2 separate regions of the Homo sapiens genome follow, and region 2 is linked to region 1. Evidence: fine-mapped expression QTL. Tissue or cell type: whole blood. Region 1 holds a variant in brackets; the other region holds the start of a gene. All regions are shown on one strand. Distances are between the middles of the regions. Region 1 overlaps NME5 (NME/NM23 family member 5). Region 2 holds the start of CDC23 (cell division cycle 23).

Evidence for each region. PIP is the estimated chance that this variant, and not a neighbour inherited with it, causes the effect.
Region 2: it holds the start of CDC23, and the variant in region 1 is the best candidate, but not a certain one, in a credible set for the expression of CDC23 in whole blood (INTERVAL, PIP 0.54).

The regions. Positions count from the first base shown.
Region 1 is chr5:138,118,876-138,124,257 of GRCh38, reverse strand. NME5 (NME/NM23 family member 5) reads left to right here. Exons shown (of 6, transcript NM_003551.3): 5 at 5,322-5,382. It also overlaps the pseudogene RNU6-888P. Among named protein-coding and RNA genes, the nearest start is that of NME5, 18 kb to the left of the region's middle. The variant C/T (reference allele first, on the strand shown) is at 3,014.
Region 2 is chr5:138,211,127-138,216,461 of GRCh38, reverse strand. CDC23 (cell division cycle 23) reads left to right here and starts at 3,139. Exons shown (of 16, transcript NM_004661.4): 1 at 3,139-3,310; 2 at 3,399-3,471. The coding sequence starts at 3,150. RefSeq lists an enhancer at 2,828-3,122.

The DNA.
Region 1 (5,382 bases):
GCCGAGGCTGGCAGATCACCTGAGGTCAGGAATTCAAGACCAACCTGGTCAACAAAGTGAAGCCCTGTCTCTACTAAAAAAAAAATACAAAAAATTAGCCAGGTGTGGTGGCACGTGCCTATAATCCCAGCTACTCGGGAGGCTGAGGCAGGATAACCACTTGAACCCAGGAGGTGGAGGTTGCAGTGAGCCAAGATCGCGCCATTGCACCCCAGCCTGGGCAACAAGAACAAGACTCCATCTCAAAAAAAAAAAAAAAAAAAAAAAAAAAAGTGCTCAAAATCACTAATCATCAGGGAAATACAGATCAAAACCACGGTGAGATATCACCTCACACGTTAGGATGGCTATTATCAAAAGAAAAAAAGGTAAATATTGGCAAGCATATAGGGAAATTGGAATGCTTGTACACATTTGGTGGAGATTAAAAATGGTGCTGCCACTATGGAAGACAGTATGGAAGTTCCTCAAGAAACTAAAAATAAAACTGTTACATGATCTAACAATCCCACTGCTGGATATATATATCTGAAAGAATTGAATCAGGATCTTGAAGAGATACCTGCACCAATGAACCACAATAATGTTCATTGTGGCATTATTCACAATAACCAAGATATGGAATCAACCTAAGTGTCCATCAGTGGGTTAATGGATAAAGAAAATGTGGTGTATATACACAATGTAATACTATTCAGCCTTAAAAAGGAAGAGATTCTGTCATTTTTGACAACATGGATGAACCTGGAGGACATTATATTAAGTGAAATAAGCCAGGCACAGAAAGACAGATATCACATGATCTCACTTATATGTGGAATCTAAAAAAACTTGAACTCGGAGAGTAGAATGGTGGCCACCAGGAGCTTGCAAGAGAGAGTAGGGGATGGAAATGTTGATCAAAGGATACTTATTCCTGTGATAGTAGGAATAAGTTCAACATGGTGACTATAGTTAATAATAATGTGTTGTTGAAAATTGCTAAGACAGTAGATTTTAAGTGTTCTCACCACAAAAAAAGATAAGTATTTGAGGTAATGCATATATTAATTAGCTTGATTTGTCTTTCCATAGTGTTTACATATTTCAAAACAACATGTACACAATAAATGTATACAATATTTCTTATCTATTAAAAAATTTGTTGTGCTCACTTCAGCACATATGCTAAAATTGGAACGATACAGAGAAGATTAGCTTGGCCCCTATGCAAGGATGACATGCTTTTAAAATAAAAAGAAATTTTAAGTACACTTATAAGTTAAAAAAAATTTGGGGGACCAGGGGTGGTGGCTCATGCCTGTAATCCCAGCACTTTGGGAGCCTGACATGGGCAGATCACTTGAGGTCAGGAGTTCGAGACCAGACTAGCCAACATAGTGAAACCCCATCTCTGCTAAAAATAAAAAAAAATTAGCCTGGCATAGTGGCATGCATCTGTAATCCCAGCTACTCAGGAGGCTGAGGCAGGAGAATTGCTTGAACCCAGGAGGCAGAGGTTGCAGTGAACCGAGATCGCACCACTGCACTCCAGCCTGGGCAACAGAGCAAGACCATGTCTCAAAAAAAAAAAAAAATTAAAAAAATTTTTGTTTAATGATTAGTACCTGATAAATTGGCATAATGAACTTTATATAATATATGAATAAAACATTTGCCCATATTGAGAAAAAATTGTATACATTAATTGTGTGCAATTTTGTGTACATGAGTAATACTTCAATAAAGCTGTAAAAAGGAAAATTCCATTCACAATGACATTAAAAATAATATAATATTTAGGCACAATTTTTTTTTTTTTTTTTTTTTTTTTTTTAGAGACAGAGTTTCGCTCTTGTCACCCAGGCTGGAGTGCAGTGGCCCGATCTCAACTCACTGCAACCTCTGCCTCCTGGGTTCAAGCGATTCTCCTGCTTCAGCCTCCCGAGTAGCTGGGATTACAGGCGCCCACCACCACGCCCAGCTAATTTTTTGTATTTTTAGTAGAGACAGGGTTTCGCCACGTTGGGCAGGCTGGTCTCAAACTCCTGACTTCAGGTGATCCACCCGCCTTGGCCTCCCAAAGTGCTGGGATTACAGGTGTGAGCCACCACGCCCGGCCATATTTAAGCATAAATTTAATGAAAGTGCAATTCTTGTACACTGAAAAACAAAGAACATTGCTGAGATAAATTTTAAAATAAATAATAGATATTCCATATTAATGGATTGGAAGACTCAATATTGTTAAGATGGCAATTCTTTCTAAATTAATTAACAGTTTTGGGTTGGGTGCAGTGGCTCATTCCTGTAATCTCAACACTTTGGGAGGCTGAGGCAGAAGGATTGCTTCAGTCTAGGAGTAGGAGACCAGCCTGGGCAACAAAGTGAGACCTCATCTCTACAAGAAAAAAAAAATTTAAAGAAAATTTTAATGTAATCCTTTTAAAAGTCCATGCATACTTTTACGTAGACATTGACAAGCTGAGTTTAAAATTTAGCAAAATTGCAAATAATTCAATTTTAGAAAAGAAGAACAAAGTTGGAAGACTTCCACTATCTGATTTTGAAACTTACTGCAAAGCCACAATTATAAGACGGTATGACAGTGATATAAAGATACACATATAGATTATTGGAACAGAATTGAGGATCTAGAAGTAAACTTTTACACTTATGGTCAATTCACTTTCAACAAAGGTGCCTAGACAATTCAGTGAGAAAAGGATGGTCTTGCCAATACAGTCCCCAACTTACCATGGTTCAAGTTACAGTTTTTTGACTTTACTATGGTGCTTTCAGCTGTGTACATTAATGGCGAGTATCCATACAACCATTCTATTTTGGTTTCCTTTTTTTTTGAGACAGGGTGTCTCTCTGTCACCCAGGCTGAAGTGCAGTGGTGCCCACTACAGCCTGACCTCCTGGGCTCAAGCATTCTCCCACCTTAGCCTCCTGAGTAGCTGAGACTAGAGGCATAGACCACCATGCCTGGCTACTTTTTGAATTTTTTTGTTGTAGAAAGGCAGTCTCG[C/T]CATATTGCCCAGGCTGGTATTGAACTCCTGGCCTCAAGAGATCCTCCCCCAAAAATGATATATATATATATCTTTTTTTTTTAAGAGACAGAGTCTTGCTTTGTTGCCCAGATGGTCTCAAACTCATGGCTTCAGGTAATCCTACTGCCTCAGCCTCTCAAGGAGCTAGGACTACAAGTGTGAACCACTGTGCCCAGCTCATAATATATGTATATTATATAGAAAATGTTATTTATATAAAATTTGCTTTGTGTTAGATGATTTTGCCCAACTGTAGGCTAATGTAAGTGTTCTGAGCACATTTAAAGTAGGCTATGCTATGCTATGATGTTCAATAGGCTAGGTGTATTAAATGTGTTTTTGACTTACTGATACTTTCAACTTATGATGGGTTTATTGGGATGTAACCCATGTAAATTGAGGAAAGTCTGTATATGGTGCTAGGACAGCATGATAGTCACATAAAAACAAAAAGAACTTAGACCCTTGTTTCATAGCATACACAAAAATTAACTCAAAATGGATCACAGACTTCAATGTAAAAACATCTAAAAGAAAACAAGAAAATCTTTGTAACTGGAGTTGGACAAAGACTTCTTAAAATGACATCAAAAGCAAGATCCATAAAAGAAAATATTGATAAATTGGACTAAATCAAATTAAAAGCTTTTGTGCTTCAAAGGACATCATTAAGAATGTGAAAAGAGGCTGGGCGCGGTGGCTCATGCCTGTAATCCCAGCACTTTGGGAGGCCGAGGCAGGCGGCTCACAAGGTCAGGATATCAAGACCATCCTGGCTAACATGGTGAAACCCCGTCTCTACTAAAAAATACAAAAAAATTAGCCGGACTAATTAGTGGCGGGCACCTGTAGTCCCAGCTACTCAGAAGGCTGAGGCAGGAGAATGGCGTGAACCCAGGAGGCGGAGCTTGCAGTGAGCCAAGATCGCGGCACTGCACTCCAGCCTGGCGACAGAGAAAGACTCTGTCTCAAAAAAAAAAAAAAAAAAAAAAGAGCTGGGAGCAGTGGTTTGCACCTGTAAATCCAGCTATTCAGGAGGCTGAGGTGGGAGGATTGCTTGAGGCCAGGAGTTTGAGACCAGCGTGAGTGACACCCTGTCTCTAAACACTTAAAGAAAAAAAAAGCTGGGTGTGGTGGCACACACTTGCAGGCCCAGCTACTTGGAAGGCTGAAGCCAGAGGATGCTTCAGCCCAGGAGTTCGAGGCTGCAGTGAGCTGTGCTCACACCACCACACTCCAGACTGGGCAACGGAGCAAGACCCTGTGTCAAAAAAAAAAATAGAAGTTAAATTTTTAAAAATATGAAAAGATAGGTAGGCAACAGACTGGGAAAAAATATCACCAAATAATATAAAGAACTTGTAACTAGAATATATAAAGAACTCCTATGTCTAAATAATAAGAGAAACATCCCAACTGAAAACTGAGGCTGGTTCTACTCAGGAGGCTGAGGCAGGAGAATTGCTTCAACCTGGGAGACGGGGTTGCAGTGAACTGAGATTGTGCTGCTGCACTCCAGCCTGGGTGACAAGAGTGAAACTCTGTCTCAAAAAAAAAAAAATAAAGAAAAGAAAAGAAAAAGAAAACAGGCTGGTTGCAGTGGCTCATGCCTGTAATCTCAGCACTTTGGCAGGCTGAGGCAGGCAGATTATTTGACGTTAGGAGTTCAAGACCAGCCTGGCCAACATGGTGAAACCCCATCTCTACTAAAAATACAGAAATTAGGGCCGAGCATGGTGGCTCATGCCCGCAATCCTAGCACTTTGGGAGGCCGAGACAGGAGGATTACCTTAGATCAGGAGTTTGAGACCAGCCTGGCCGACATGGTGAAACCCTGCCTCTACTCAACGTACAAAAATTAGCCAGGCATGGTGGCACACTCCTGTCTACTTAGGAGGCTGAGGCAGGAGAATCACTTGAACTCAGGAGTTGGAGGTTGCAGTGAGCTGAGATTGTGCCACTGCATTCCAGCCTGGGCAACAAAGCGAGACTCTGTCTCAAAAAATAAAAATAAATAAAAATACAAAAATTAGCAGGGTGTGGTGATGCGGACCTGTAGTCCCAGCTACTCGGAAGGCTGAGGTGGGAGAATCACATGAACCCAGGAGGAGGTTGCAGTGATCTGAGATTGCATCATTGCACTCCAGCCCAGGCAACAGAGTAAGACTCCATCTCAAAAAAACATATAAAAAAATAGAGAAAAGTTCTTTAAAAAGAACCTTTTTAATGATTGTATAGTATTTAATCATTATGTTTGCATCAATGAGAATACATTTGTATTTGCAGTGATTGTTGAGCCCATTCCAATTGGACAAGCTGCTAAGGACTATTTAAATTTACATATAAT
Region 2 (5,335 bases), 92 kb before region 1:
GTGCTGGGATTACAGGCATTAGCCACTGTGCCCGGCCAATTTATGGTACATTCATATAATGGATTATCATGCAGTTATTAAGTATCACGATTTAGAAGAATATTAACTTGGGAAAATACTTAGAGTGAATTATCAAATGACAAATGTGGGCAGCACTGCAGTATGAAGCTATGTACACAGATGGATGGAGAAACACAGAAACCAGTGATTTCCTTTGGGTGGGAGTTAGTGTTCTACATATTTTTCTTTCTTAAAAAAATTAATTAATTAATTAATTATGTTTGAGACAGAGTCTCACTCTTGTCCAGGCTAGAGTACAGTGGCACGATCTTGGCTTACTGCAACCTCTACCTCCTGGGTTCAAGCGATTCTCCTGCCTCAGCCTTCGGAGTAGCTGGGACTACAGGTGCATAATACCACACCCAGCTAATTTTTGTAGTTTTAGTAGAGATGGGGTTTCACCACGTTTGTCAGGCTGGTCTCCATCTCCTGACCTCAGGTGATCCATCCATCTAGGCCTTGTTGGTATTACAGGCGTGAGCCACTGCGCTTGGCCCATATTTTTCTTTTCTTTTTTTTTTTTTGAGACCGAGTCTCGCTCTGTTGCCCAGGCTGGAGTGCAGTGGCGTGATCTTGGCTCACTGCAAGCTCCGCCTCCCGGCTTCACATGTTCTCCTGCCTCAGCCTCCCGGGTAGCTGGGACTACGGCACCCGCCACTAAGCCTGGCTTTTTTGTATTTTTAGTACAGACGGGGTTTCACTGTGTCAGCCAGGATGGTCTCGATCTCCTGACCTCGTGATCCACCCGCCTCTGCCTCCCAAAGTGCTGGGATTACACGCGTGAGCCACCACGCCCACCTCCCATATTTTTCTTTATAGTTAATGTATTCTTCAAGTTTTTGCCATTGACATTACTTCTTTTTTTTTTTTTGAGATAGGGTCTCTGCATCCAGGCTGGAGAGTGCAGTGGTGCAATCATAGCTCACTGCAACCTCAAACTCCTGGACTCAAGTGATCCTCCCACCTCAGCCTCCCGAGTAGCTGGGATGACAGGCATGCACCACCATGCCTGGATATATATTTTTTTAATTTTTAATTTTTATAGTAGTAGTGATAGGGAGGTCTTGGTATGTTGCCCAGGCTGGTCTTCAACAGCTGGGCTCAAATGATCTTCCCGCCTCAGCCTCCCAAAGCACTGGGAATATAGGCCCGCAAATTGATTTTTTTAAAGGGTAAAATGGGCTGGGCATGGTGGCTTATGCTTGTAATCCCAGAACTTTGGGAGGGCAAGGCGAGAGGATCATTTAAGCCCAGGAGTTTGAGACCAGCCTGGGCAACATAGGGAGATTCTGTCCCTACGAAAATTACAAAAAAAAAAAAAATTAGCTGGGTGTCGTGACACACACCTGTGGTCCCAGCTACTTGGGAGGCTGAGGCGGCAGGATCACTGGAGCCCAGGAGTTTGAGGATGCAGTGAGCCTTGATCGGGCCGCGGCCACTCCAGCCTGGATGACAGAACGAGACCTTCTTTCTTTTTTTTTTTTTTGAGACAGAGTCTCGTTCTGTCGCCCAGGCTGGAGTGCAGTGGCGCGATCTCTGCTCACTGCAAGCTCCGCCTCCCAGGTTCACGCCATTCTGTCTCAGCTTCCAGAGTAGCTGGGACTACAGGTGCCTGCCACCACGCCCGGCTAATTTTTTTTTTTTTTGTATTTTTAGTAGAGACAGGGGTTTCACCGTGTTAGCCAAGATGGTCTTGATCTCCTGACCTCGTGATCCGCCCGCCTTCGCCTCGCAAAGTGCTGGGATTACCGGCGTGAGCCACCGCGCCCGGCCGAGACCCTTTCTTAAAATAAATAAAATAATAAAATAACAATTTAAAAATAGATAACTTCTATATAACACCCAGTGAATGACAAAATGGTTTCAAAAAAAATTCCCGAGGGGTTGGTAAGATAGTATACTACTATGAAAGGATAAAAACCAAAAAACGCCGAAAATGTTCATGTAATGTTTAAGAACATTGGGCTTTGGAGTAAAATCTGGTTTATAGTCTAGACTCTCTCCTTGGAAGAGTGATAGAACTTCTCTGAGCTTCCGTTTTTTCTTTTTTTTCTTTTCTGGTTTTGTTTTTTTTTTTTTTTTTTTTTGACGGAGTCTCGCTCTGTCGCCCAGGCTGGAGTGCAATGGCACGATCTCGGCTCATTGCAACCTCCGCCTCCCAGGTTCAAGCGATTCTCCTGCCTCAGCCTGCCGAGTAGCTGGGACTACAGACACGTGCCACCACGCCCGGCTAATTTTTATGTATTTTTAGTAGAGACGGGGTTTCACCGTGTTGGCCAGGATGGTCTCGATCTCCTGACCTCGTGATCCGCCCGCCTCGGCCTCCCACAGTGTTGGATTACAGGCTTGAGCCACCGCGCCTGGCCGAGCTTCCGTTTTTCTTTCTATAAAATTGGGATGATACGAATATCATAGTGCTGTTTTTAGGATTAAACCAGATTATAGTTGTAAAAGAGCAGAACCTGTTGTAGGATAAACCCTCAATAAATGTGAAATGTTAACAATTATTGTTAAATAAATGTTACAGAACAATGCTCTCACCCCCACCTCCCCGGGCTACCCGGGGTAAGAAAGGGTAGACAAAGAGGAAAAATCCTCCACATGGGGCGATACATCCTCCTATTTTAAGGAAGAATCCAGAGGCTACCATGCATCTTTCCTAGCATATACATCACTTTGTCATTATCTGGTACAGAGTCGGCCCTGAAACTACACCCTTTCTATTTTTCATCCAATCACATCACCCGTGAAAGGCACTCTCCCTTCTCCACCCTTTCTTGCCCCTACTCCCACCCCTAGCTTCCCAGTTTACTTTTCCCAGTCACTCATTCCCCTCTTCCCCGCCCCGCCCAGAGGTCGTGGCTTCTCCCTCGCCCCGCCTATTTTCTAATTTTCCCGCCTCAGTAGCTCTTGGCCATTTGGGGATGTAGTTGTTTCTTTTCCCCCGCCTCTTCGTGACGTTTCAGAAATAAGACCTATGATTGGTTTTTCCGGAGCAAGAGCCGGCCAATGACAGGCAGATATTTTTGGTGCAGATGGGCAGCCAGTATTATCGCCGATGATTGGCTGGAGTGGCCCGAGTCGGGAAAATGGCTGCGAGTACCTCCATGGTCCCGGTGGCTGTGACGGCGGCAGTGGCGCCTGTCCTGTCCATAAACAGCGATTTCTCAGATTTGCGGGAAATTAAAAAGCAACTGCTGCTTATTGCGGGCCTTACCCGGGAGCGGGGCCTACTACACAGTAGCAAATGGTGAGATGTTGGAGTGGGAAGGGACGGGGCTTGGATCCTTGGCCTTGGGGGGCTTGTCGAGCTGATCTAGTTTGTGTGGGTGTTCCAGGTCGGCGGAGTTGGCTTTCTCTCTCCCTGCATTGCCTCTGGCCGAGCTGCAACCGCCTCCGCCTATTACAGAGGTAAGGACATGTTTACAGTGAGCGCTCCCCATCAACCCAGGGGTGTGCCTCAAGAGCCACTGAGTGCCCTGTCACTGGAGGAGAGCAAACTGCTTAGCAGAAATGTTTGTAGAGGGAATTCAGGCATTCAAAGAGCTGAGTGTTTTAAATGATTTTATCCATTTAGTTTTCTTGAGCTTTGAAAGACTTGGTGGTGCTCTTATTTAAAGCTGGGGAGAATTAGTAAACAATTACTGCTTATGATTTCAGCCTTTTAGGGCTTATAGCCAAACCTAGACATAAGAGTGCCTCATAATAGTAAATATTATTATAAGGAATTATTATAAGGATATCTCATAATAAATACCCAAAAGGATGAGAAGAATCAAAAGTTTTGGTCTGGCGCGGTGGCTCACGCCTGTAATCCCAACACTTTAGGAGGCCGAGGTGGGCGGATCACGAGGTTAGGAGTTCGAGACCAGCTTGGCCAACACGGTGAAACCCCGTCTCTAGTAAAAATACAAAATTAGCCGGACATGGTGGCGCGCGCCTGTAATCCCAGTTACTCGGGAGGCTGAGACAGGAGAATCGCTTAAACCCGGGAGGCGAAGGTTGCAGTGAGCTGAGATCGCGCCATTGCACTCCAGCCCGAGGGCAGAGCGGGACACTGTCTCAAAATAAATAATAAATAAATAAAGTTTTTACAATACCTACACTGTTGTCTGATCAGCATAGCAAATAATGGTTAAGTTTGGGTGCTGGATTGAGACGACTCTGGGTTCAAATGACCTTTGGCAACTTAACCTTCTGAGCCAGTTTCCTCATCTGTGCAGTGACGATAGTAATAGTATCTACTCAATGGGGATATTGAGAGAAGTCAATGAGATAATAATATAGACCGCTTAGAAGTGTGCCTGGTGCTTGCATCTATATTTCGGTCAAGTTCTTTATTAGCAGCACCAATGTGGGCAAATGATTTCTAAGTGACAGCCTTCTCATCTATAGATAATGTTAATAATTGCTGCATTTTCAAGAAGATTAAATAAAGCAATAAGGGTAAAGCATACGGTATACTCTTAGGTAAATTTTTTGAGTCAATGCAGTTTATATTTGTCTCATTAGCTTTTACTCTTGTGCCCACTTTCATAATGCCTAGGCCCATCGTTGGTCCTGAATAGGATAAATAATTGTTTTTGTTGTTTAAATTTTAGATTCAGGGGTTACTTGTGCAGATTTGCTACATGGATATATTGTGTGATTCTGAGGTTGGGCTTCAGTTGAACCCATCATCCAAATAGTGAACATAATACCTGATAGACAGTTTTATTTTATTTTACTTTTTTTTTTTTTTGAGACGGAGTCTTGCTCTTGTTGCCCAGGCTGGAGTGCAATGGCATGATGGCTCACTGCAACCTCTGCCTCCCGGGTTCAAGCAATTCTCCTGCCTCAACCTCCCGAGTAGCTCGGATTACAGGCACCCGTCACCACGCCTGGGTAACTTTTTGTATTTTTAGTAGGGACAGGGTTTCACCCTGTTTACCAGGCTGGTCTGGAACTCCTGACTTCAGGTGATCCACCTACCTTGGCCTCTCAAAGTGCTGGGACCTGGCCAGATAGTTTTCACCCTTTGCTTTCCTCCTTCCCCACTCTTGGAGTCCCTGGTGTCTGTTGTTCCCATCTTTAAGTCCGTGTGTACCCAGTGATCAGCTTCCACTTGTAAGTGAGAACATGCTGTATTTGGGTTTCTATTTCTGTGTTAATTCACTTTGGATAATGGCCTCTAGCTGCATCCATGTTACTGCAAAGGACATGATTTTGTTCTTTTTTATGGCTGTGTCGTATTCCATGGTGTATATGTACCACATTTTCTTTAGTGCACCATTGA